Regions from separate parts of the Homo sapiens genome. Here regions 1, 2 and 4 are each reported to be linked to region 3. The links are microRNA targets in miRTarBase. Many come from high-throughput screens and were not tested one by one. Region 3 holds a microRNA gene; each other region holds the end of a gene's coding sequence.

Region 1 (7,124 bases), not on the chromosome of region 3:
GGAATGAGATGAGATTTTCAAACCTAGCTCACTTTAGGTTAAGGTCAATTTTTTTTTTGTTTTTTACACATAAAATCTTCAAAACGAGGCATATGTTTAATTTTATTATCCAGTCTTAGTCTCAGTGTTCTTATGTACACTGAGTAATGCATCCCTTACACCTAGGAGGAATTTTGCCTTTGAACCAAGAAAACCCCAACTAGTTCAGAAATAAAGTTCTAAAACCAATTTAAAAAGTAATCCCAATCACAAATTTTAGGTTTTCTTATGTTTAGGAAGTGCTCATAGGCTCTAAGTACTTTTGTTTCCTTATTAATGTTCACCACGATCTTTCGCAATACAGATGAAAAGACTGATGCTGAACCAACAGGTGGTAGACAGACTCTAAAGCCTGTGTTTAAAGACACTACCCAAAGACACTACTTGTATTCTCACACATATCCATTAAAATTTGGTAGCAGAGACATTTGTTTAGGGGCTGAAAAGTTTTAGTCTAAAATTAGATCTCCATTTTTATTCATGGATTCTTATTCCTATAGAGCAACCTCATCTACTTTCCTAGTTGGATCAACTGATTCCACTTATTTGAAAATAATTACAAATACGGACGGCAGTAGCAGTAGGAAAAATAACATTGTTTGATTCAACTTCAAAGTATCCACTGTGCGTTCAGTTTTTATGATACATGTACAAATTTTCTTTCACCTGAAAGGCCCTAGAAATACCCTGTAAAGAGCATATTCAGCAACTGGACTTAAGTTTCTAAGTAATACTCCCTATTCTAAGAAGCCAGCAATCCTTGGAGAAATGGCCCATTCCAGGGCTGAAATAGAAAACGCCTGTAAGACTAGAAAACTTTTTGAGCCAAAAAGTATGTTGATCAGAGTAAAGAATATACCGGAATTCTTTCAACTATTTTCAGAGTTGAAGGAAAGCTGTAATATTGATAAGTTACCCCAAAACACCAATCTGGAGTTTGACTAAGGGGATTCACTGCAGATAAAACTTTATTCAGCAATTTTTTTAAATAAAGCTTTTGTTCTTGGCTAAGTAAATTATCTTAACAGCTAACAGCGTCTTGTTCACTGCTGCTGCCACGTCATTTAACTTACTTTTTCAGTTGCATATATATGACCCTGAAGCCTTTACTGGCCCCTGGGGCCCACCTACCTCAAATGTTCTGACCTTCAAATGGCTGACTTGGTCTATCAATCATGTCTTCCTTTAAAAATTATCTTTCAGCCAGGTGCAGTGGCTAACGTCTGTAATCCCAGCACTTTGGGAGACCAAGATGGGTGGATTACCTGAGTCCAGGAGTTCGAAACCAGCCTGGCCAACATGGTGAAACACCTCTCAACAAATGTAAAAATTAGCTGGGCGTGGTGGCACGTGCCTGTGATACCAGCTACTCGAGAGGCTGATTGCAGCAGTACACTCCAACCTGGGCAAATGAAGTAAGACCCTGTCTCAGAAAAAAAAAAAAAAAAAAAAATTTCTACATGGAATGGTCATCCTCATCCTCACTTGAAATACTCTTGTAACAGGTGGTTCCAGTGTTTTAAACCCATTAAGAGGACTTCCACAGCTAAACTTTCTATGGACTGGCCACTTGTATTTCTACCTGTATTTCCAGGTATCTCAATTCCTTGAATGTAGCCTCAATTGTTCTGTTCTGGGACCTTTGCCTGTATTTCCTCCTGTTCCTCCACCTGAACTGCTCACCGTTCAGAGGTTCTTCCTCTCACTTCACAAATTCCTACAGATTCTCAAAATCTCAGCTAAAAGCTCATACAAATTTTGAGCCTTCTGGTAGCAACTATTTTACAACCTCATGAAATTTACCAGAGCCGCAATTGCCTAATACATTATGAATGATAAAATTATGAATAAGACCTTCAACTCTGGATATGAGATCTGTCGACTTCTGGCACTCACGTTTAATCACACATTCCTAGTTCCTTCTTTTTGGCTTTAAGTTTAAAACATGTAAGAAACTGGCTGGGCGTGGTGGCTCATGCTTGTAATCCCAGCACTTTTGAGAGGCCAGCACTTTGAGAGGCTGAGGTGGGAGGATCACTGGAGGTCAGGAGGTCGAGACCAGCCTGGCCAACATGGTGAAAACCCATCTCTACTAAAAGTACAAAAATCAGCTGGGCTCAGTGGCACACGCCTGTAATCCCGACTACTTGGAATGCTGAGGCACGAGAATCGCTTGAACCCGGGAGATGACAGCTGTAGTGAGCCGAGATCATGCCACTGCACTCCAGCCTGGGCAACAGAGCAAGACTCTATCTCAAAAATAAAAATAAATGGATAAAACATGTAAGAAACTAAAAAGCAATGCTTTTATGTAATATTTTATCCTGGGTTTCAAAATAATAAAACTCAGTTTGTTCTAGGATCCACAAAACTTAAAATGCCCAATTTCCCATAGGAAAATTAAACAACCAGACTGACTTATTTCCCGCCAGTAATCTATTATTTCTAAATACCCCATTTCTTCTTTTATTCAGACTCTTGGCTTGAGGATGACATGGTCGGGCCTCAATAAGCCCACTGTAAGTCAAAAATATCATAAGTAGAAGATGTGTTTAATACTCCAATAAACTCATAAAGCTGAAGTCTTAAGTCAAACCATTATAAGTCAGGGACTGTCTGTACTAAGATTTTAGTGAATAACTTAATTTTTGTAAACTGGAAAACCTGACAATATGATGTCAAAAGGAAGAAACACAAGATACAAAGCATACTGTATTTTTGAAAATATACATCAATCAAAATTTCTTATGAATACTTATCCTTGAGTAAAATAATTTCATATACCAACAAGGATGTTTCCATTTCTGTAAAGTCATGTAAGTGATCCTCAATCAGTCCAAGAACTTGGCTTTTTATCCAGGTTATATTTTAATATCTGGAGTTTTAATCCAGCATACAAAAATCACCAGTATACATCTATTAAGTTAACTGCAGTATTATTTCACCATCACCATTTACATGTACTTTTCAGGTATCAGAGACTTAGTGCTTTAAGTAGCAAATTACCTAAATTATGAACACATATTTCCAAAAACAAAATCAAGCTCATAATTACCAAGTATATATGTACAGTGCAGATTAAAAAAAAACTGAATTAGCACATATTTCTCTTTTCTAAAGCTCCTATGAAGAACTTACACTCTTCTGCACTACCAATCTATTCTGTACATTTAAAATAACATTTGTTTTGATTTAAAGTCAAAAATATAAAGGCTTAAATTTTTGTAAGACTAACCCATAAAAAAGGACTCCAATTTTAAACCAATCCCTGAAACCAAAGCATTCAAATATTTGAATATTAGTTCAATATTTCTACATAGCACGATAAGATTTTCAGTTACTTCAAGTTTTGTCTTTATTTTTAATAATGGGAATGGCCTACAATTACAATAAACAATTAATTCAGTTATTTTAGGGGCCTTACCATATCATTAACCTATTCACACAACAAAAATATTTTTATGAAAGTTAATATATCCTTTCCTGATTAAGTGTGCTAAAACAGAAATAGAGGTAGAATCCCATTTTTCTTAAGTACCACTCTACAAGCCAGTTCCACACAATTAAGGTATTTTTGCAATCTAAAATAGTGATGCTAATACTGCTTCAGTAAGCTAGATTTACTAATTTAAGAATCCTAAGAAATTATATATGTGGCTTTCAGACATCCATGTTAAACTATCAACTTGTGGAATTTGTGGAACACTTACCCTACTTGAGTGACCATAAAGCAAACAACTCTAAAATTTTTTCATATCAGTTTTCTTTATAAGTGATTATATGATATTTCACCATTTCTAACAGGAAAAAATGAGACTTACTTGGCAGTGTGCATGGGCTGCTGGAAACTACAATCAGAGTGTAAAGACAAATCTCAAAAATGTTTGTAGATAACTCAGAATAATAACCCAGAATATAACCTATCAGGAACTATGGAATTCCATTTTAGTCTTCAAATAATAAACTCCACTTAGCAGGGATTGTGAGGTTGCTCTTAAAATTATATATTTACAGAACATAGTGGCCTCAGCACAAAATAGCTCCCTCTAGACATCACTACTCTCCACTCTTCAAAAAAAAAGTATATACATTCATTTAAAAAAAAACACCCAAAATATCACCAGTACATTTTATAAAATTAAATCCAAATTTTATTAAGGATTTCAGGTTACATACTTCAAATTTCTAGAATGGAATGGAATCATTTTGGAACTGGAAAAATGGCATAAACACTGACGTCCCTTAAAACTTCAATTTTATAAAGAAAATTCTTCTGCAAACCACATCCCCTTTATGTAACAAGACTAGGTATTATCTACACCTTCACTTTGGCAATAGCTATTTCCTAAAGAATGAAAAAGATGATTTTGCTACTTCAGTTCATTAAAAATGGGATTCTATCTTTGAAGTTCAGAAAAAGCTGCATTTCGATGAACTATGGTTAAAAAAAAAAAGCACATAGTGTCTAATCAAAGCAAAGGAAATCATTTTGAAAATAAAGAAAAAAAGCTATTATAATTGGTTAAGGATTTCCAGTAGTAAGTTAAAATCTCAGGAGAGGAATGGATAGCACTACAAACAATGTGTTCACATTCCAAGACCTTAACACTAACTTCTCAGAAAGGAAGTTTTCATTACCTCTAAAAATCAATTCAATGTAATTTTATTAAGAGCAGGAAATCTAGACCTTCCTCTAATGACAATCCAATAATCCACCCTCACTGTCAAAAAAAAGTTCAACCCCAAAATTAACAGTAATTAGCCTGAGGTATTGTAAATGTGGCTCTACAGTCTGAAATTTAATGGCATCTTTTGTCAAAAATAGTCTTATTTCCACTTTAAGTCTCATGACTACAATACTATAGTGCTATCCCTGTAGTATTTACAATACAGTCATCAAAAATATCTGAAAACAAATCTTGGACCTTGTGAAATAGTGCATCCCTCCACTTCTATAAAAATAGGAGCCACACAAAGATCTAAAAAGAGTGCTGACTGCCCAGATCCAGAACAGAGGTACTTAACACCTTTGTTTTCCAGTTTAGTTATCAAAGCGTGGTGTGAACAAAATGCTTAGTGTCACACTGGCATTACAAATAGGCCCAAAATTTTGAGCTTTTAACAAGATTGAGAAACATTATATGAGATTTAACTCAATATGCCTTAACACATCCATGAGGTAGTTAGGTAAACAGTACTACCCATTTTAATTACACAGTAAACAGAAGCACGGGTAAGTGACATACTCATACTTTAAGCAATAAGAATTAGAAGAAACCATAGAAGCTTGGGGCCTTCTCTCTAGCTCTAACCCAAAGAAAATGAATTTTTTTTTTTTTTTTTAAAAGAAAACAGCATCAATCACTTAAGATTTTCTTCCTCTTTTTTTTTTTTTTTTACACTTGCTTATTAGTATAGCATCTCGTTCCAAAGCTGGTACCTTTTCTTCAACAATGTGTTAAAAACTGAGTATAACCCTTAATTCAAGGTAGGCCTCTACTTCTACCTGAATTGGTACAAAATTAAGACATTATCTTGTAAGAACTAAAATTGTATTTGAAATTTTTATTTTAGCTGCAAAAACAAAAACAAGCAAACAAACAACAAATAACTTGAAAATAGGCTTGTCAAATGATGTAAATTCATCCTTTCCAGGGAAGCAGAAGGTAGACCCTACCACAAAGAAAAGATGCTTAGTTAATGGAGGTTAAATTTAAAAATACAGTTAAATTCAGGCTAACTTCTGAAAATCCCGTTTTATTCACCTCACTGTGGTACCAGTAACTATACTGAGTCAGGTTACTTTACAGTTAACTATGTCACCTAAAACACAATAATCCATTAACACTCTAATAACAGTTATTGGGTGTGGTCATACTGGAAATTCTTAACCATATAGTTGTCTTGCCAATTTTTTTTTTAAACAATAAATTGTCTTAGTATAAGTCACTGCATTTCTGTAACAAAGTAATGAAAGGCACAGCTAATCCAAGCGGACTTAACCCTATTCAACAACCAGCTGAAAAAATACTTTGGTTCTTCAAGGAAAAAATTACAAAAAAAAAAAAAAGGTATTTCCTTTAACAGTTGTTAATTTTCATAGCTGTACTCCAAGAGCTACATAAAAATATTCCAGAAGAACCAAATTATGTAGCAATGAATGAACATGCGTGACAGAATTTGTGCATTCAACATAGCTGGCAGAAAAACTAGTTAAAATGCTAGGTAGAACAAATTGGTCTTTAAAATATCAGTTTCCTGTCCTTTAAAAAAAAATTACCTAGTCTACCAAGAAAATACAAAAACATAAGGCTGTAAGTAAATAAGAGTTGTGTTTAGGCTATTACAGTGCAGGTTATCCTCAAGGCCACATACATCCTGCTTCACTGCTGCTTGCACTCTGCTGGGTTTTGATCCTTCTGTTAAAGGAAAACAACAAGTCAATCTATCTTCTTCTACCTGCTTCAGTGAATTTCTCAATAGTAATTACTGCCTTAATTATAACAGTAGCTCACTGTTGTCAAAAGAAATGGTATAGGACAATGGTGGTAAATTATTTATTTTATTAGCAAGTCACTGAAATGCTAAAATCAAGCTCAAACTTTACACTGTAGAATTAACTCCATAAAATGTGACACACGCTAAACCATAATCTTAAAAAAATAAAGTTACCAAGCAATTTATGTTAGTTATATTACCAATCAGCTTTGTTTTTGCTAATCCTAATATAACAAATTCTCAGGAATAATAGACTAGGACTCTCAGGGACTGAGTAAGAGTAGTTGGAAGGATCTAACAAACTGCACTGCTCCCCAGTTCCCGAACACTCCTACAACCAGATCTTTTAAAAACCTTTATTTTCTAATGCTTAAAAACTGTTACAAATCGTCCCATTAAAATAGAATCCTAGGGTTCACTGTACCTGAAACTATAAAAAGCACGAAGTCCAAACAAAAAACAATGTTTTTTAGAAAAACGTCCACTGAAATTATGTGTACTGTTCACAATGCCAGTGGGACTGAAAAAACAAAGTTATCCAGTCAATAGGCTTTATTTATTAAAGACTTTAACGGAGAGAAACTTGA
Region 2 (7,106 bases), not on the chromosome of region 3:
CTGACCTCAAGTGATCTGCCTGCCTCAGCCTCCCAAAGTGCTGGGATTACAGGCTCACCCATGAGTTTCTTAACTGGCCCTTGAGATTGAGACTCTCTCAATCTGTTTTTAGGAAAGAAAAAATTGCCCCACTGCGCCTCATCTCAGACCTTCTGGACCCTATCAACCAGGATTTCTCAGAAGGCTCTGCCTGCGGACCCTTCTGATTAGAGAATCAGTGGGGGCCAGCCACTGTCTGATCTCCTGGCTCCTTTAATCCGATAACCTAAGAGCTGGCATCATGTAAAAGTGAATTGGCATGCCCTTTGCCACTGCATCTACCCAATAAATTTCCACTTATCCTTAGAGATTCAGCCCCAGGCCCACTTCCTCTGAAAAGTGCTCCTACGTCAGACACGTTGGTTCTTATACTAACTTTTGCTTACATGTTATTTGTGTTCCAACTCTTTCCTGAGTTATCCAGCTCATTCCTCTGCCCTGGGGTCTTTCAACAGCAGGAACTGTGTTTTATTCACCGTTAGAGTTCCACTGCTCCTACTTGCACAATAGGAGCTTGGTTAGTATCCAATGCATTAAGCAATTAATTAGGAAATAACAATCACTGCCCATTTCCCTCAACTCTGCAAGCAGTGAAAAGAGTCAGGGTTTGTGGGGATTATTTTTGAGAGTCGGGAGCTCTATGTATGTTCAGCGGCATGGAGTGGGGGATGCCAGACAAGCAGAATGGAAAGGCAGTTAGGTTTTCAGCTCCATGCTTTACACTCTCCCAAACGCCACAGAAGCACATGAGCCTGGGGAAAAAGATGTCGCCACGCCTCTTGGGGAAGAGCTCAAGCATTCCTCATTTTTGCATGGTGGGGCTTTGTAGGCCTCCAGCTGGGAAAACGATGGGATCATAACACAACAGCAACCAACTTGGCATGACTCTTCCTCCTAACTCCACCCCTCTTCCTCATGCACCATGGCCAGAACTCCTGCCTTTCTATGTCTCACCGTCTGGCTTGAGAGGGGGTAGTGAGGTTTGTTGGAAGATAAGGCTAAGCTGTGTCCATATTTCCTATCTCAGGTGTGCTGTGGTAAACAGCCCTGACTACTGCTTCAAGCCCCAGAAAACTTACCTAGTCAGGTGTGGCCACGGTTGCAATGCAGCCAGAGGCTTCTCCCGGAGCTCCTGCTTTGCCAACTTTCCTGGCATTTGTCTTTGTGGATTCTGAGTTCAGTAGTCTCAATGGTCTCTCTCTCTCTCTCTCTCTTTGTTTTTAATGTGCAGATTACTAAACAGCCAGGGCTAATAGTCACTTTTCTAAGCAATAAACCAACTGGCTATTTCCCTTTTCTGTTCTAATCCTCCCAGTGGTGAATCCCACACATCACCACCTTGTATCCTCTGCTACAGTCAAAATCATCAGAAATATGGCTTTTGAGTGACTTGTTAGGCCAGCTGCCTCTCACTCCTTCCCTAAGACTTCATACCAATCTAACCTGGTGGCAATCTGTGCACCTTTGGTCATGCAAATGTCTCCCTGCTCAGAAGATCATGTAGGGACAGTATAAGAAAATCACTTTTCATCTATTTATTTATTCATTTATTCAACAGGCATGTATTGAGTACCTGTAATGGATCAGACATGGTGCTAGGCACTTGGGACACCATGGTCAGCAATTCCAAAGGGGGATCTATGGAATAAAGAGAACTAACTCATATCACAGCCATCTGGTGAGAAGTCCTATACACAGCTCTGTTTTCTTCCTTTTCTCTCATACGTCATCTACCACTGACTTCCAGCTCCATGAGCACTTTTCTGAGGCTGAGGCTTGCCATGTGGAACTTTTTGCACAAATACTGCCACTCGTCACTTACTGTGCCCACCATGTTTGACACCGGCTTTCCTTATCCATGAATGACTTAACACCAAGACTCATTCACTCAGAATGGTTGAGGCTCAGGTAAATAGATTTCCTTTTTATAGATACTTTGGTTCTGGTCCTGTGTATTAATTTTAACTCTTAATTATGTAGTTTTCAGATAGATTCTTCCATGCCATATTCAGATAAAAGGCATTAATGAATCCATCTCCTTCTCCATTTAAGACTTCCTAAACTTATAGCCATGAGCCAGTGATCTTGTCTCTTACTCTGGTTCTATATGCCAGCACTAATGAAGATCCCTTCTAACCTAGGATGTTTCCCAAGCATCCAAGTGTGTATGAAAACACATTTCCAGACTGGGCTAAATCAAAAGCATAAAACAATATGCTTGTTTCTGTCACAGATGTGAAATGTATGATATCTATTCCTAGAAAAATTGCTGCCAAGGAATGGCTCAGCAGCTGACAATGGTACATCCACAATTTAATAATTTGAGTTTTAATTTTCAGCTCTTACTTTTAATTTTTCAAATGAAATCAAATAACTACATGGGCAAGGGGGAACCCCCCACATACAATCAGGTTCAAGTTCTGTTGAATGTCAAAGGGTCAAAGTTCTTAGGGCTGCTTGTCCCAGCAAATGAGGGTAGGAACTCTGACTGAAAGAAATCAGGTCACATTTCCCCAGAAATTGATTAGATATTTTAAGAGTCTGGAGAAAAAAGATCTACAGGGACTTTCAACATGAGAAGTAACAGCAGAGAAGTAGATTTCAAAGACATGCAGAAATAAGAAAAGGACACAAAGAAGTATATCAAAATAAGATATAAGCCATTCATGACAAGTTCTGATATCAGGAGACAGAAAGGAAAACTGATCATGTAAAATGAGTTTCTCTTGTGTAATCTGAATCCTGGCAGCATTCCTCTCATGTATTGGGAGTGAATGATTTTTTTAAATGCCTGTTTGCAACTTGAGTTTGGCATGAGGATAGACTGATATAATTAAGTGGGTAAAACAAACAGGTTCTGCCACATGGTTGCATAGAAGTCAAAGCCTTCTTTTGCCATTTCTGGCTATATGTAATGTTGGCCCAACTGCTTAACAGCTTTGGCCTCAGTCCATTCATCTATAAGTTTGGGTGAATAACACCCACCTTACGGGACATTGTGAGGATTAAACAAGACAATAAAAGTAAATGTGCTGTAAAGATTAACTTCCTTTCCTCTTAAATTATTTTTGGAAAAATTGTCAGAAGAAGAGCAACACATTTGATCAGAAAGATAAGTGTGTGAGCTAAAAAAAAAAAAATAAAGCATTTTACAACTTTGGAAAATGTTACCCACTGCATTTCAAGTTTTTGATATTGTTAAACTATGAACTCACGTGCATTCAATCAGCTGACCAGTCAACTTTCCTGTGATGTGGAATGTCCCACAGCAACAATCCCCAGTATGGCAGCTTCTGGCCTCGTGTGACTATCGCACACTTGAAATGTGGCTAGTGCAACTTAGGAACTAATTTTGTCATTTTATGTACTTTTGTTTCTTTAAATTTAAATAGGGATACATGGCTAGTAGCTTCTGAATTGGACAGCACCCTTTTAGATCTTCCTGACTGTAAGGTTCTCTCACACCAGTCTTGAGGAAGCAGAAGAGCATGAGTTTAAACACCTTGGGCACTGAGATTGTACTAGGTTCAAATCCTAGCTCTGCCACTGAGTGATTCATGTAAGTTCCTTGAGCCTCAGTTTTCTCATCTGTACAAAAGGAATGGTAGTGACATCACTTGCTGCATGTGACATGTGGAGAGTAATAAATAAGTTAATACAAGTAAGAGCTTCAAAAGGTATTATGATTATTCCTTCTAAAATAACAGTCCTCACACTTTATTGAAACTATGCATTTACTTCTCTGCCTTCTCTACTAGGCTACAAGCACCGCTATAACACAAGTGCCAATCACCATGCCTGGCACATTTGGACTCTCATTAAATACATTCAGGAAGAAGGGAAGGAGGGAGGGAGAGGAGAAAGGATCAGGAGAGGGAGGGAAGGAGAAGGAAGAAAGGAAGAATGAATGAAGTACGCAGTAATACCTTTCATGAAGAATAAAGTAGGCTGCTAAAATAAAATAAATAAAATATGAGAGTTTTAAATAAAAATTTCCGTGGAGATGACTTAGAGATGAAGATGGAACCGGGTACTCCAGGGAAAACATATCTCTAAGTGACAGTAAAGGGACTGGATAACTCTGAGAGAACCAAAGAAAGATGAAGGAAGCTAAACTGAAGGGTTTTTCTAGATGCTACACTGATAAAAACATAAACTTCAATCCTTAAAAGTGTGTTCAACCAAGCTTCTTCAAGAGAATACAACTGTGGGTTGTGTAACCTTATTTGTCGACAGAATACTCTCATAGAAAGGGTCCACCAGAAGTGAAGTTCATGTACATTGGGCTCCCCATTGCCAAGTTTTCATTTATACTACATTCACCAGTTCCCCCAAAAAAGCAGTAGTGGGCAAGTTTTCATAACTGTTTATTCATTATAAATAGTAAATATTTACTGCACTTTTTACATGAAAGACATTTTTACAACACATTGTTGTTGGTTGAGGCTGCAACACAAAGATAGTACTTCTCTTGTTCCATCACCCTCTAAGACCAATGCATGAACTAAATTCGGTACTATGTCTAGTCTCACTAACTCGCTACGTCATAGTTCTTAACTCTAAAAGGAATGTATTTGTGCCTACCTCATTCGTGGTTCCAAGAATAGAAAGAAATAAATAACACTGCCTTCCACCTTCTTGTTCCTCTCAACATCTCAAAAAGCAAATTTATTGACATTCTAAAATGTCACCACACAAACGTATGTAAACCTCAGTTCCTATAATCTTTTAATATTGGATATCATTGTATAATTTAAAAGTACATGAGAGCCATGTGAACACTTCTGTTCTTGCCCTGCCTTTCATAGAAAAGAGAAGAATGTAAACGTAATCAGTTTAAAAGCATAATTATCTGATCTGGTCTCTAATCAAAGGAGCAACCCGGGTGTTGGTTGTCCAGCAAATGGCAAACATCACTGCACTCTATCACTATGAATTATGGGCTGTGAAAATAAAAGCACCTGCAAAAATATACTTCTGATTTTGCTTATATCGCCTTGGGCATTGCCAAAGCATCCATGAGGTACACAGTATTGCACACTGATAAGCAGATATGTGAATGCATGTCACTTTCTCTCCACCGTGCCCTTCCTCCAACCCAGGTGGGCTACCAAATAAATGTGAACTGGAAAAACGTCACACACCTCTCCCCACACAGGAAAGGGAAACAAGTCCTTCTTCCTGGTAGCCCATATCCTGTTAGCAAGACATGTCCGGGCCATTTATTGACAACTAGATTACAAATGAGGATACAGTAACAAATAATTTATTTAGGAGGTCCTTTACAGCTAGTCTAGCTTCCTAAAAATGGTTGCATTTATCTTTATTTCAATTTCCAGTGTGTAAGAGTCAAGGATTCCTCCATTCTTGCTTCATGAAATGAGCAGTTTTAAAGTTGTAGAAGTATCAGCATCGAACATCGACATGTTATACTTTAGGGTATTCTATTATATTTTAGAACAGTCTGCTTGCCCAAACCAGTCTGGGTAAATCTCAATACACACACACACACACACACGCACGCACGCACACAAGCAAATGGAATGTTCTAGCTCCTCGATGATCAGCACTAAAGAATTGGGATGTTTTGATATGTAACCATGTGAAACCATTGCCTTAAAATGTTGCATTTGTCTTTTATTGCTCCAGGTCTTCCTCTTCTCCACTGCTTTTGTCGAACGTGTTCAAAAGGATTTGAAACCAACTATTGGAGGAAGAAAATCAATCACTCTCCTTTGTCTCCTATTGGGACCACTGCCCCACCCCCCCCAACAAAAGGGTAATTTTTTTTTGTTTTCAGAGCAGATTCTTCATATCTAGGCTGCGAAGACCAGAAACAGGGCCAGTTTTAGCTCCAAGTGGACAGTTCACTTACGCGATATCTGGCTTGAGATAATGAAAGGCACCTGTAAGGAAACACACGCAGCTTTTTAGGTCATGCTGGGACAATTCACAGTCAGGGGCAAGATCAGCTACAGGCTGACAATGTCATATTTAATACCGTGCTATCAAAGGCTTGAGACTAATATTTTTATTCCTGAGACAAGTTTGACACAACTTTGTGTCCCTGGGATTATCCCCCATATGATCCTGGAGCTGACCTCATTAAGAACATGTGTTTCTAATGTCAGGGATTATTTCATTTTGGCCAACCCTTGTGTTTTACCTAGTGGCAATCAGGTTTCACGTCTCAACAATTAATAACCGCAAGATGTTGTTGACATCAGTTAAGAAAATAATTACACAAGGAAGCCCCTGCTGGAACAGTCAGCTGGCTTTGCAAAAAAAAAAAAAAATTGATACCGGCATGTGTGGCTTAATCTTGCCTCTAATTCACCTTTCTTAAGGAAGAGTTGAGTTTATCTCCCTTCCAGGAGAAATTGCCCCCTAAAAAGTCCAAGGCTTACTTTGTCCATACTGCCCATATTGGTAGCCTGTGACAGGGTCCATACTGTAGCCTGTGGTGCTATAGGTGGGTGGACAGTAGGACTGAGATGTTGGCAGACTGTCCAAGCTCTTCATATGGTCTAGTCTCTGACTGCAGCTGGCCGACACCGTGGTGGTAGGTTCCAGACCCCCGGTGAGAGGGGAGAGCGCGTAATCAGTCTGGGGCTGATGAGGTACCCCACCGTGGTTGGTCAGGAGTCCCATTACCTAAAAAAACAGCCAGATTGGGAAGAGGTTAAAATGCAGAGAGATCCAGATTGCAGCCTACAGCTGAAAGAATAACTTGACAGTCCAGTTTTTATTTCTTTGGAAATTGGTTAAAGAGCTGTCCAGGAGACTATGAACCCAATTCTAAGTGGCAGAGATATTACATCATGCCCGACGATAACATCTGACTGCAGTTGCAGAAGAAGGAAAGGGGGAGGGAGAAGAGGGGAGAAGAGGGGGAAGAGGAAAAGAAGGAAGGAGAAGAGGAAAGAGAGAGATTACACCACGTCCCTAGTGATAAAATCAGACTGGAATTTCAAAGAAGGGGGAAAAAAGGATGAAAAGAGGGAGAAATTGTATCTGTTCATACAGAAAAATGTCTATTCATACATTATATCTGGAAGTTTCACATG
Region 3 (7,110 bases):
GATTAGCAAGATCCTAGTGAACATTCAGCTCCACTGGTACAGCACGGCTGGAAGAAAAGGACAGGACCTCAGCACGTACTTTTCATTCTTCCAAAGCTTCTCAATGCGAAAGATGTCAAGTTTATCTCGGTTAATGTGAGATAACAGTCGATAGGACTGACGGACCGGGTGGCCATCAGGGGTGCGCCGACTATCCCTCATCAGATACACACAGTCACCTAGGAAGACCCAGAACACAGAAGAAACATAAAACAATTCTTGTATGAATTCTGTTAGGCATCTGTTTATCTGACTCAGGGTCTACATAGAACTCATAATCTGAAACAGTATAAATACAGAGAGCTAAAAGCAGCAGTGTTAAGTGATGATAATCAATTCTAGACTATGACAATAATATAAGGGAGGCATTCCATTTCTTGAGCTTCCTATATGTTTTTCCCAGTCTTAAAATTAGCTTTGTAACATGTCTATCATTTCAAATTAGTATTATTTGGTGGAGAGGTGATGCATGTAAGCACAAGGACTACAGATATAAAAACTTATATTCTATTGCTATTCGAGGCCGTATGGAGACAATGACTATGATGGAGACAGCAGAGACTTCCTACTATTCAGAAAGGTCACCTCTGACAAGTAGGATTAGCTCCTGTATACATACCCTGACGAAGCAGCAAGTCATCTCGGAGCAAACAGATGAAGTAGACACAGCCAGGTTGGGCATAGTGGGGCCGAGGGATCATGGGAACCTCCTGATAGGAGCAGAAAGCCAATGTATAAGGGCTGGAATTACTACATTCAGCCTACTTATTTCTCAACCTAGAATTCTCAATCAAAACTTACTGTTTAGTCATTTCAATATACCACAGATATACAAAAAAGATGAAAGCAACTAGAGCTGTTAAACCTGGAAAAGTGAAGGTAGAGGACAAAACTGATAGGCTAAGTATCTCAATCTATGTTTTATGAAGCACTAATTGTGTAGTTGCTCTACGTAATCTAGGGGCCATATGAAAATGTGTGAAGGGAGACTAATTATTACAATGATTGGGGTATGCTACTGGTATTTAATGCCCAGGGTCCAAGGAAGCCAAACATTCTGAAATGCATCCCTCACAACAAGAACTATTCACCTAAACATGACAACAGCAACATTGTTAAGAAATACTGCCTAAATCTCTTCTTTTTTTAAAAATGACTTGCCCAAAATCACACATATAAAGATAGCAGAGCCAAGCACAGAACCCACTTAATGACTTAGGCAAGCCACTTACCCTCTCTCCTATGAAGTGAGCCTAACACTAACCTTTGCTGATTCTGAGTCCAGTGCTCTTTTCACTTAAACCACTGTCTAACATAAATGACGTTAAGGGTACCAAGTTCTGGATTTTGTAAGCTATTCCTTTCATGGACATCTGATAGTGTTTATAAAAACCTCAGTTTTGTTTTTTTTTGAAATGGAGTCTCGCTCTGTTGGCAGGCTGGGGTGCAGTGGTGCGATCTCGACCCACTGCAACTTCCGCCTCCAGATTCAAGTGAATTCTCCTGCCTTAGCCTCCCGAGTAGCTGGGACTACAGGCACGCAACACCACGCCCAGCTAATTTTTGTATTTTTAGTAGAGACGGGGTTTCACCATGTTAGCCAGGATGGTCTTTTTTTTTTTTTTTTTTTTTTTGGAGACTGAGTCTCACTCCGTCACCCGGGCTAGAGTGCAGTGGCGTGATCTTGGCTCATTGCAACCTCTGCCGCCCAGGTTCAAGTGATTCCCCTGCCTCAGACTCCCAAGTAGATGGGATTACAGGCGCCTGCCACTGCACCCGGCTAATTTTTTTTGCAGTTTTTAGTAGAGATGGGGTTTCACCATATTGGCCAGGCTGGTCTTGAACTCCTAACCCCATGATCCACCCGCCTTAGCCTCTCAAAATGCTGGGATTGCAGCCGTGAGCCACTGCGCCCGGCCGAGGATGGTCTTTATCTCTTGACCTTGTGATCTGCCCGCCTCGGCCTCCCAAAGTGCTGGGATTATAGGTGTGAGCCACCATGCCCAGCTTTTTTTTTTTTTTTTTTTTTGAGACAGTGTCTTGCTCTGTTGCCCAGGCTAGAATGCAGTGATGCGATCTTGGCTCACTGCAACCTCTGCCTCCTGGGTTCAAGTGATTTGCCTGCCTCAGACTCCTGAGTAGCTGGGATTACAGGCACCTGCCACTGTGCCTGGCTAAGTTTTGAATTTTTAGTAGAGACAGGGTTTCACCATCTTGGCCAGGCTGGTCTCAAACTCCTGACCTCATGATCCACTGCACCCGGCCTTTTTTTTTTTTTTTTTCTAAGAGATGGGGTCTTGCTCTGTCGCCCAGGCTGGAGTGCACTGGCATGATCTTGGCTTACTGCAACATCTGCCTCCCGGGTTCTAGCAGTTCTCTTGCCTCAGCCACCCAAGTACCTGAGACTTCAGGTGCACGCCTCCATGCCCGGCTAATTTTTTTTGTATTTTAGTAGAGATGGGGTTTCACCGTGTTGCCCAGGCTGGTCTCGAACTCCTGAGCTCAGGCAATCCATCCGCCTTAGCCTCCCAGTGTGCTAGGATTACAGGCATGAGCGACCGTGCCCGGCCAAAAACCTTAGTTTTATATAGTGCCATTCCTTCCACAGATTTCTAAGTATTTTATTTTCCCTTTGGTCATACTCCTGAAATAGGGAAGAACAGAATTATGACCCTTAATGTAAAGTTTAAGAAACCAAGGCCCAGAGAGGCTGAACAACCTATTAAAGGAAATTCTGCAAAGCAGGAGCAGGACAGGTGAGATACCATGTGCTACCTCTCCTACTTATAGATCAGAGTTTTATCAGAGGTTCAGCTTACCCTGTCCACAGGCCTTGGGTCACACTGCTCACAAAGGTAGTGCTCCACATCTGAGTTCACTCCCATACAATCACAGTGCTGCCATACCTGTAGAAAAACATACAGTTTGGGGAACATGGAGGCTATGACTTATTGAGAGTGTCCTGGGAGCCCAGAATAAAAAATTAGCAATAGGTCAGGGTAAAGTAAAAGAGGAACTAAGGGATAACTGGGTGAATGATAAATTAGAGATAAATGGTAAAATAGGAGGAAAACAAAATAATGACTGTTCTAAGCAAAAGTATACCGATTGACTCATAATCTATAGATCTGGGCAAATAAAATGGGGAGATGGACAGAGAATAGGAAAACAAATAGACTACTGAACTATTACTAAGTAATTTAAGTAAATGCTACAGCTATTCTGCTTTCAGAATACAGCTACAAAATGTTTTATTTACTCCTGTCTAACTTTAGCCTCCCAACAATCCTGTGCGTTACTTACAGCCACTTTACACATAAAGTTATGCATTCACATATATTAGTGGGGACACTAAGGCTCAAATCCAGGCTTTGACTTCTTCATCAGGAGCCCTACATGTATTAACATATTTCACTCTATCAGAGGATTCAATTAATAGAGTGTATTATCACTAATGATTCAAAAGGCAAAGCACTATATGAAATACTGTCATTTTCCTTGATCCAGATTATGTGAGAAGTGTACAGTGGAAAGTGGGCAGAAAGAAGGAAAGAGCCAGGCGTGGTGGCTCATGCCTGTAATCCCAACGCTCTGGGAGGCCGAGGTGGGCAGATCACTTGAGCTCAGGAGTTCAAGACCAGCCTGGGCAACATGGTGACACCCCATCTCTACAAAAAGTACAAAAAATTAGCCGGGCATGGTGGCACGTGGCACATGCCTATAATCCCAGCTACTCGAGAGGCTGAGGTGGGAGGATTGCTTGAGCCTGGGAGGCAGAGGTTGCAGAGAGCTGAGATCGTGCCACCACACTCCAGTGTGGATGACAGAGCAAGATCCTATCTTATAAACAAAACAAAACAAAAAAACAAGAAGAGAGGAGAGAAGGAAAGAAAAAGAAGGGAAGGATAAAGTGAAAGAAAGATAAAAGGAGAAAGGCAATATAGTAAACACAGAAACCTAACAGAAACCAAGGCTAAGTTACAGTTCATAAACAGTCTTTCAAGCCAATCCAAAAGAGGCATGGGCTTCTTCTTTGAATATGGTCACCGTGTTCATCAGGACCAAGCTTCTGCTTCATTTCCTGACCCTCACCATGCACTTGTCACACTGGATCATGAGACCTTCATCCTTGTAGAGGCCACAGATACAGCGAATAACATCGTCGTCCTTCTCATGCCCATTCTCCTTTTCAGAGACTGAGGTCTCACTGCTGTCTGCCTCACTTGCTGTCTCTCCCACAATCTCATCAATCTGGGCTGATGCCTCATGCCGGGCATTGTAATAGGCCTTTCGTAGACGACAAACATCTCTCCCAACTGGGGATTTACGCCCATAGTACTTCTGAAGAAAGCAAATAAAGAAATCATGTTTGGTTCTCTCAATGTGGCTTAACAATTTACCTAAAGAGGTAGCAAGGTAGCATGACTTTCTTTACCCTCCCATTTTGGTTAACAGATTTTCAATAGTATCAAATATATGGCCAGATAGTTGGTAACAACTTAAACTGAACTAAAATGAATTCAAGTTAGAATCTGCATGTTATTTTTCCATTTGCTCAACTGATCTGTCATTCAATTCCTGTCACGGGCCTTCTTGTCCCCAGATCAAATACACAGAGATCATGAAATATGAATTGATATCACAAGCATAATGTACTGTAGAAGTTCAACATACACCTTTGTCTTGTGGATATCTGTGACAGATCTACAGGTGTTGAATCTATGTGGAAGCTGGGTTTCAGTAGGAAGAATGTTACAATTTAAGATTGCTCTAACTCTTCTCCCGCTTGTCTATTTTTCTTTCTCATTTTGTCTTTCAACTTCTATTATTCCTTTATCTAGTAGGATCTTTTGTCTTCCAAACACCTCTCCAAGGCATGTCAAAATTACTGAATAATTTCCTCTCTTCTATGCACCATACAATAGTCCATCCTGTCCTTTAAATCAGTTCAAGGCCACTTTCTCTCCAATGAGCTTCAGCTATTCCATAATCTATCACTGTGATACTCCTCAATTCCATCCTCAAGATATATTACTGGCCAGGAGCCGTGGCTCACGCCTGTAATCCCAACACTCTGGGAGGCCAAGGCAGGCAGATCACCTGAGGTCAGGAGTTCAAGACCAGCCTGGCCAACATGGTGAAACCCTGTCTCTACTAAAAATACAAAATTAGCCAGGCATGGTGGCAGGCGCCTATAATCCCAGCTACTCAGGAGGCTGAGGCAGGAGAATCGCTTGAACCCGGGAGGTGGAGGTTGCAGTGAGCTGAGATCACGCTATTGCGCTCCAGCCTGGGTGACAGAGCAAGATTCTGTCTCATTTAAAAAAAAAAAAAAAATATATATATATACACACACACACACACACACACACACACACACACATATAAACATTTACCTATGCATATTTCTGTATATTTCACATGTACTTATTTTCTTGAGGAAAGAAACTACAGATATTAGTTAAATGTATTAAAATATCTATATAACGCAGTCATAAAGGTTTAATACTAAATTAGTTTTTTACAAAAATTATTTTTTTGGGGGGGAATGATTTAACCTTCCATTCTAGTCCTATCAATGTCTTCATAGATAGCCTTCTATAATATTTAGTATACTGTAACACATACCCCAAGGATACTCAAAAATGACTGGCTTTTCCAACCAGAAATATGGCTGATAGAGGAGGGTAAAAATCTTAAACTTCTAGACTAATTCTTTTCAGAACAAACTTGTGAAATCTGTTTGAAGTCAGTGAAAAATACCTCAGCATTCCGAAAGACTTTGAGCATGTCAGCATCAAAAGCTTCCACTGTCTTATAGTAACCAGTGAGGATCTGCTTCTCTATGGTGATAAGATCTAGGGGATCAGAGATCTTCTCATAATAATCAGCATTCCTGGAACACAAAGCCAGGGTGTCAATCTGGCACACTTAGCACTTTTTAAAAACTCAGATGATTCCCACAAATGTGAACCTACTTTTTCTTTGGGGGAAGGTTCAAAAGTGGAGCTGCCAGTGCTTGCCGGGAAGAATCTGCAAAAGAATGTGAGGTTTAGTAGAAAGATTCCACCATACAAGGGAGGCAAGCATCTCCTAACTGGAAGAATAGAATCCCTCAAATTAAAAGTGAGAGAAAAATCCAAGTCTTTTTTTTTTTTTTTTTTTTTTTTTGAGACAGAGTCTCACTCTTGTCGCCCAGGCTGGTGTGCAATGGCATGATCTCAGCTCACTGCAACCTCCACCTCCTGAGTTCAAGCGATTCTCCTGCCTCAGCCTCCCGAGCAGCTGGGACTACAGGCGTGTACCACCACGCCAAGCTACTTTTTTTTTTTTTTTTTTTTTTGAGACAAGAGTTTCGCTCTGTTGCCCAGGCTGGAGTGCAGTGGCGTGATCTTTGCTCACTGCAAGCTCCACCTCCCGGGTTCATGCCATTCTCCTGCCTCAGCCTCCCGAGTAGCTGGGACTACAGGTACCCGCCACCATGCCCGGCTAATTTTTTGTATTTTTAGTAGAGACGAGGTTTCACCATGTTAGCCAGGCTGGTCTCGATCTGACCTCGTGATCTGCCCGCCTCAGCCTCCCAAAGTGCTGGGATTACAGGCGTGAGCCACCGTGTCCGGCCAATTTTTGTATTTTTAATAGAGACAGGGTTTCACCATGTTGGCCAGGATAGTCTCGAACTCCTGACCCTCAGGTGATTCACCTGCCTCGGCCTCCCAAAGTGCTGGGATTACAGGCATGAGCCACTGCGCCTGGCCAAAAATCCAAGTCTTTTTAAGGCCTGTGAAAAAGCCACTTTTTCAGATATGTAGATAAAGGCAGGGATCAAATGACAATTCTAAGATTGTCTAGGATATGAAAGATATAGTTGCATCTGCTTGAAAGGTAGCACAATGTTAGTTGGGTAATGAGAAGAACTTCCTGTGAAGAATGAGAGATGGGAACTTATTGAGGGTAATCTGCTTAGGGCAAATTACTACTCAACAAATCTTATAATAGCAAAAAGAATATCTTATCCAAAAAGTGCTTTCTAGTTCTCATTAACTGCCCTTAATTAATAGTAATTTGTTT
Region 4 (7,124 bases), not on the chromosome of region 3:
AGCTATAAAAGTAAGTTTGCCTCAAAAATGTCCTTCAATTTTATAAAAAATGAAGATTGTTACATATTAAGACTTTGAAATGGAATTTCTTAAACATAGCCAATTACACTAAAAATCATAACTATTTTCAGAGAATGAATGTTAAAAATAAATGGTGGAGAAGTAAAATGGAAAGCAGGATTAAAAGATTTCTAATTAAGGGTCTGTCACTTCACAGGACAACTAGCAAGGCCATTATAATCTCTATTTTTAAAAAGACATCAAGAAATTCTTGATTCTATACTGTCTCTCTAGCAGGACTGACACACAGGTGAGTCAAAAACCATAACCATCACTGAAATACCAAATCTCTATGTAACAGGAGAAACCGATATATTGGTATGGTATTCTCTGTTGGGTTATCTGCAGTTCTAAAGAACATTCTTGCCACTATTCTAAAATGTGTACAGTGCAACACCATGTTTCACGGCAAGACAATAACTGAAAAGCTAAGCCAGGCAATCCAGTGAAGTTGAATGTCCATAGTACACAGCTGTCTTTAGCCTATTCATCAAGGCTGGTATTACCGGAAAACTGCCATGTTCACCAGAAGAGCTGTCTCTTCCTATGCTCATTACATTTTAGTTTTACAAAGACTACTAATTCATCAGCCTGCACCCCATGATTTACTACTGCGTAGTTACATGATGGTCAAAAAAGGCAGAGAGACGGTAAGAATGACATAATAAAGATACATTCTGTGGAATAAAAAACATTTTTAAGTCAGCCTAATTGTATCTTTAAAAAGCTGTTTCTGCCAAAACCAGGTGTGAATCTTATACAAATCAATTTCCCAACAGGCCAGTAAAGTACTTTAAGTACACAAGTAAAAATAAAATTTAGTGCCAGCGTTAGTGTCATATTTGGTTCTCATTTACATTTTAGTCATACTCAACACTGATTAGGCACACAGCATTAAGTTTTAAAAAATAATGAATTGTTTACAAGATTATTATTACTAGACCTATAACTACTATACTCTCCTCTTTGGAGATTTCAGTCATCGCAGTAAGATTAAGAGCAAGTTGTTGGTCAAATGATACCTGAACACAGAATAAAAAAAAGAGAGAAAAAAAAAGTAAAGAAACTGATTAACCAGCACACTTTTAATTAGCCTAGGGATAATACGCAATCACGGGGAGAGACTGGAAGCATGAAATTTTGGAAAAGGACTTCAGAGATAATCTAATTTGTTGTTCTAGAAAAGGCTGAGAACTATTAATCTAGTCCAATTATCTCATTTTTCAGACGAGAAACCAGAGATTAAGAAGAAAGAGAAGTGTGAAGGTAACAACTAGCAGAGCTGTTACCCAAAGGGCTCTCACACCTCCAGTGCCCTTTCTGCATATAACATATACTATACTATGCATTGGATTTGTACCTGGGTAGAGAAATTAAATCTTTCCTTCATTTTTCGGTTGCTAGTGGCTCCCTCTGGTATTTTCCCTAAGTGTGCAAGTAAGATTCCTGCGAGCTAGGAATCTTTACTCCGGGGGATCAATAGTGAGATCCCCGCAAGCTAGGAATCTTTACTCCAGGGATCAATAATCCTTTCCTACTTGGGTACTGGTTATGCCTTAGTGGCAGAACTTCATGCCCCAAATCTAGAAGTTACAAAAGGTGGAGCTAAAGAAAAAGGTGAGTCAAAAGAAAACGTGAGCTACAGTGCTTGCCACTTCAGTCTTGTTTAAGACTTTGCTAACTAAAACATATTCTTCCCTTTTTCTAAGTTTGAACTAATAGGTAAACATTTACATGCTCTCCAATTATTTCATGTGTAGTGTGTCTCTCTAACTGGATAAAACAGGCAGGAATCATATCTTATTTATTATTTTTTGAGACAGAGTCTCGCTCCATTGCCCAGGATGGAGTGCAGTGGTGTGATCTCGGCTCACTGCAACCTCCGCCTCCCAGGTTCAAGAGATTCTTGTGCCTCAGCCTCCCCATTAGCTGGGATTACAGACAGCCACCATGCCTGGCTAATTTTTGTATTTTTCAGTAGAGATGGGGTTTCACCATGTTGGCCAGGCTGATCTCGAACTCCCAACCTCAGGTGATCCACCCACCTCGGCCTCCCAAAATATTGGGATTACAGGCATGAGCCACCACACCTGGCCAGGAATTAGATCTCAGATTTCAAAATACTTCCAACTTCTATAAAGAACTCAATAGCTAATTGTTGACTTGTAAGTCAAGGAAGTAGAATTATATACAAGATTTAAAAACATACACACAGAGGGTTCAATAATCTGGTATGGATGGGACACAGAAAACAGAATTGTAGATCGGGCGCAGTGGCTCATGCCTGTAATCCCAGCACTTTAGGAGGCCGAGGTGGGCGGAACACGAGATCAAGAGATCGAGACCATCCTGGCCAACATGGTGAAACCCTGTCTCTACTAAAAATGCAAAAATTAGCCGGGCGTGGTGGCGCTCACCTATTAAAAAAGGTAATTGTATCTTTTCTGAAAAATGTTTAAAAAAAGAAAAAATTGTTTTTTTACCCTTTTCATTTATTCTTGGCAAATAATGCCACGTGGCAATTTTACTTTCACATCTTCACCAGTGCATCATTTTAAAAAAGCAATAATCAGCCTCTCAAAATAATGGCATAAATAAAAATGTATAGGCATAGTGCAAATCCCACAACTTTAACCCAACTACTTCCTCTATATTTATGGGAACAAAACTAAGTGACACTTTACAAAGCCAAACAATGAGAAGAGAATCATCTGGGTAGCTTGATTCTCTTGCTGAAGGAGACCACAGCATGGACTCTGGATTCCAATTCTGATTTGCCACTCACTAGCTATGAGTCCTGAATAAGTTCTCTATACCTGTTTTCTTAACATGGGAAGAAAGTATACATTTTGTACGATTCTTCGGGAGATTGAAGAGGCAAATGTACACAAAAGTATCTGGTGCATGCCAATTAGTATTAAGTTTCCTGTTCTTTTCTCATTTGGCACTGTTGTTTTCTCTTCTCCAGTTCCTTCCGATACCAATTTCAAAAAAGTATTCCTCTCACTTTTTTCCCACTAGTTTTCTTCTTCTTCTTCTTTTTTTTTTTTAAATTTGAGATGGAGTGTCGCTTTGTCGCCCAGGCTGGAGTGTAATGGTGCGATCTTGGCTCACTGCAACCTCTGCCTCCCAGGTTCAAGCCATTCCCCTGCCTCAGCCTCTGAGTAGCTGGGATTACAGGTGCACGCCACCACACCCAGGTAATTTTTGTATTTTTAGTAGAGACGGGGTTTCACCATGTTGCTCAGGCTGGCCTCGATCTCCTGACCTTAGGTGATCTGCCCACCTCCGCCTCCCAAAGTGTTGGGATTACAGGCATGAGCCACCGCGCCCGGCCTTCCTGGTAGTTTCCATTCCATCTCCCTGTATTTTTCTCTTATCACTCTCGAAGTCTATCTTTCTTGTTCTTTTCCTCCCTAGCTTTTTTTTTTTAAACACTCCTTTCAAGCTGTGTCCAACACCCACAAGGAATGACTATTTTTAACTAATCTTACTGACCTCATTTAATCTATTCAATAAAACCTCTGCCCTAAGGAGCAAAGAAACTTGCAGAGGAAGTAAGGCAAACTGGAAGAAGCATACTGTCAGCGGATTAAATTCTTGAGCAAGGCAATACTCCTTATGGATTCTTCCCATGTACAATCCGTAACTCTTCCCATGGGCCTTTATATCAACCCTAAGATAATTACACTCCTGCCTCAAAATAAAATAAAATAAAACCCACCACATCTTGTATTGTAGACATCCCAGCTGCATGTTAAGCTGAGTGAAAGTACCATGCTGTCTTTTAAATCACTTTATATCTACTTAATCATCCCACAGTAACCCGAGTTGAAGAAGTTACTTTGGTTTCTCATAAATGAATATGCACGTGCTGAACATATCGGAAAGAACCACACCCTCTCACTGATGAACACGTTGGCAGTTCTCCCAACTGTTTTATCAAGAGAAGCTAGAAGGTAAAGAAAAGGAAACAGAGCCCTATAGGAAAAATGATTGACTTCACACGTTTGAGCGATTTGGGCTTCAGCTATGACTTTGCTGGAGTACAGATGGGTGCCATCAGAGCACAAAGCTGAGCAAACCTCTCTTCTTACCCTGTGCCCTCCCTGAATTTTTGGATTTCTGAGCTTGTCTACTACCAACAAATGTTTTACCCTCCAGTGCACCTTTGACAGTATACAGCTCTATTTTTCAAACGGCAAGTATGTTATCCAAGTTCAGAGATGCAACTGAGGAATTAACATGAAAACCATCTTTCACTCAATAAATCAGAAGCTGCTAGTTAAGTAAGCCTCAAGAACCTAAGAAAAAACACCAAAGTGTAAGTATTACTCAGTCACCAATCTAAAGACAGAACTTTGACTCAAGGTAGAAATGAAACCGTAATTATATAAATATATTTATAAATATTTATACAATTATATACTTATACATAAGCACTTACACAGACTTAGAAAAAAATTTAAGAACATTAATTCAAAAGGACTCACTGAAGAATAAACAGATTTTTCCATGATTTCCTTGAGGAGATATAAAACTCATTCTTTAGGGAGAGTTCCTCAAAATTCAACCATTAGAAACCATATCCTATAACTGTGTACTAGCAACACATGGCATCTTTTTTTCTTCTTTTCCCAAATCCCCTAATTGCCAAGAGAGCAATCTTAAAGTAGATGAAAACCTAAAGGTCTCTACGCAACATCTGAGGAACATACGCTCCTCAGATAAAAGAATCAATCTAAATCCTCAACTGACAAAAAGGTCCATTTAATATTTTTCATTTTACAAGTTAAAAGTTCTAGTTTTGCCACCAGAATCACGACTACCCCCCCTTCAGAGGACTCCATTTAAGCTCAAAATACGAAATGAGCATAGGGTGAAGTTGATGTGTAAATGGTATTCTACAGATTCAAGATGGCCTCTTCTAAAAACACTGAAGAAAGCTTTCACCAACTCTAATTTGATTTTGGGTTTTGTTGGCAGAAAAAGCCCAAGACATCTGAAAATTACTAGTAACCTCCGCCATCCTCCTTACTAAATGTTGTCTTCTGAATGGAGTTGAAAGGTCTTCCCCTTAGAGAGGCTTTCCGTTTTGATACCTTTTGAAAGAAAACAGCATGCGGACTCATGTTCAATTCAGTCACCAGAGCCTTTTAGAGACTATTCCAACCAGGGGCAAAAAATGAACCATTATTTCTAACCAAAAGAACATGGTTAGCAACTCTCAGCTGAATGGTTTTCTTTTTCCCCAGGGACATACCTAAGTATGCCTGAAACAACACAGGACAATCAATAACCATAGTGGTTACAATTCCAAGCCATTGTACTACATGATTATTGACCAGCTGCCTTCCTACAGATCACTGCAGACTCAGACAATGGAGGGCTCCAAAGGAACTAATATGCTGTGCTGGCAAAAATAGCAAGCACCTTCCTATCCCAGTCACCACGATAGGTTCACTTCATGTCCATTCTTGGACTAGCAGGATCAATACAGAGTAATAAGGAAAACTGTCTCAGGTTAGGACAATGAAAGTCACCCCATGCTATATGCTCCATATTTAACACTCATTCTGCCAATAACACATGTCATGGAAATAGTCCTTATAGCTGGGAACATGAAAATCCTTTGAAAAAGGTTTTTAAGTATGATGAGCAATCATTACAAGGGATGCTTTTTCCACGTAAACAAAAGCCTGGATATTTTGTTAAGCGACATTTCCACATGAAGAACACAACAAAACCAAACCCATGTTAGAGAATTTCTTCTCCCTGCTAAACACGGGGACTTACAAAAAAGGGAGGGTTGTTCTTACTCTGAATCTAGCCATTCCTTTGCCCGAAGAGTCTGGGGAGTAACGTTAACATTTGATCCCAAAAAAGTGCCGTGCAAGAGACCACTTACTGGAACACACAATTCCTGCTGCTAGTACTAGGAGAGGTCTTATCCTTACACTTCAGTTTGGTCACCAGATTAGGTAAGAAAGAAAAGTGTGGGGGGAGGGGGAGGCAGAAGGGTACGGAGTGGGGAGCGAGAAAACAGAAGAGGAGAAAGAAACAAAGGGGGAGAAAGAGACTGATTATAGGAGAGATCAAGAAATAAGAGAAGGAAGGTGACTTGCTTGCCCAACTTTGGCTCTGTGGTCCTATGAGCCAAAATGCATACTTAGTGACATGTATCTCACAGGAAAAGGGAAAAAAGGGGTAAGCTGAGAGAGGTCAAGCCATGGTGTTAATTTCTTTCCTGTACAAAGACAGTCTCTTGAGGACAAAGGCCTGCCTCTTGCAATGTAATATCATAGTCCAGATGAGATAATTTCCTTCGAGGAAAGTTGGTGAGAAGTTCAAAACGTTCATTTGGGTATCCTTTAGACTGCACGTGCTTCACCAAAGCCTATAAAAACAAGAGAAAGACAAAGCCATTAGACGGAAAAAGAGGAAAGAGCATATTAGTGAATTAAATAGAAAACATTCTCTTTTTAATCATATTAGATCAGCTATTAAATGTAAGTTCTTCTTTCATATAACCAAAGCTTGCCCTTGGGGAAGGGCCAATATAAACCTTTGGACGGGGAGATAAATCTGACCCCAATTACTTACAGCCATTAAGTGATACTGAAATACACAGTTATTATTTGGCTCCCCAATAAATATACCCAGTCACTATTCATAAAATTAAATTATTGTTCTCATTTTAAAACATTTTATCCGTTTTCCTTTCTCCCTTTTATCAAGGAAGATATGTCCTTCATTCTGCCTACACCCAATCTTGCCACCTGTGCACTGAATCTCTTCTTGCCTTCTCAGAAACTGGACCATTCCCATCTTTTGCAGGTTTCTTCAACATCTCCCTCTCTGCTTCCCATCAAACTTCAACACTGCTTGCATTTCAGTAACACAGTCTTCAAGAATCAGCCTAATTATCTCCAGCCACAGCAAACGGCCAGCAATGCCTGACGCAAGGGATTCATTCACAGGCTAAGCTAAGCTAAGCTAGTCAGACTCAAGATTCTGTTTCCAGCAGTTAAAAACAGAGGGTGTCGGGGCACGGTTGCTCACAC

What was found. Region 3 holds the annotated microRNA hsa-miR-555 (AGGGUAAGCUGAACCUCUGAU, at 2,841-2,861, opposite strand). A microRNA usually pairs through its seed, bases 2 to 8, with sites in the 3' UTR of a target mRNA and lowers its output. Matches are read on the target gene's strand: a 7mer-m8 pairs with bases 2 to 8, a 7mer-A1 pairs with bases 2 to 7 and ends in A, and an 8mer does both.
Region 1: the mRNA of NAP1L1 is a reported target of hsa-miR-555. Seed matches in the 3' UTR shown: 7mer-m8 at 5,271-5,277.
Region 2: miRTarBase lists PAX3 as a target of hsa-miR-555. Seed matches in the 3' UTR shown: 7mer-A1 at 5,523-5,529.
Region 4: the mRNA of UBXN7 is a reported target of hsa-miR-555. Seed matches in the 3' UTR shown: 7mer-m8 at 6,266-6,272.

The regions. Positions count from the first base shown.
Region 1 is chr12:76,042,007-76,049,130 of GRCh38, forward strand. NAP1L1 (nucleosome assembly protein 1 like 1) reads right to left here. Exons shown (of 15, transcript NM_004537.7): 15 at 1-6,458. The coding sequence ends at 6,423. Among named protein-coding and RNA genes, the nearest start is that of PHLDA1-DT, 14 kb to the left of the region's middle.
Region 2 is chr2:222,195,498-222,202,603 of GRCh38, forward strand. It overlaps PAX3 (paired box 3), which reads right to left. Exons shown (of 9, transcript NM_181458.4): 8 at 6,447-6,693; 9 at 4,390-5,945. The coding sequence ends at 5,911. Among named protein-coding and RNA genes, the nearest start is that of CCDC140, 99 kb to the right of the region's middle.
Region 3 is chr1:155,343,525-155,350,634 of GRCh38, forward strand. MIR555 (microRNA 555) reads right to left here and starts at 2,921; the gene lies at 2,826-2,921. It overlaps ASH1L (ASH1 like histone lysine methyltransferase), which reads right to left. Exons shown (of 28, transcript NM_018489.3): 18 at 6,018-6,072; 19 at 5,803-5,935; 20 at 4,132-4,380; 21 at 2,859-2,945; 22 at 659-749; 23 at 80-218.
Region 4 is chr3:196,350,390-196,357,513 of GRCh38, forward strand. It overlaps UBXN7 (UBX domain protein 7), which reads right to left. Exons shown (of 11, transcript NM_015562.2): 11 at 1-6,457. The coding sequence ends at 6,296. Among named protein-coding and RNA genes, the nearest start is that of TM4SF19-DYNLT2B, 16 kb to the left of the region's middle.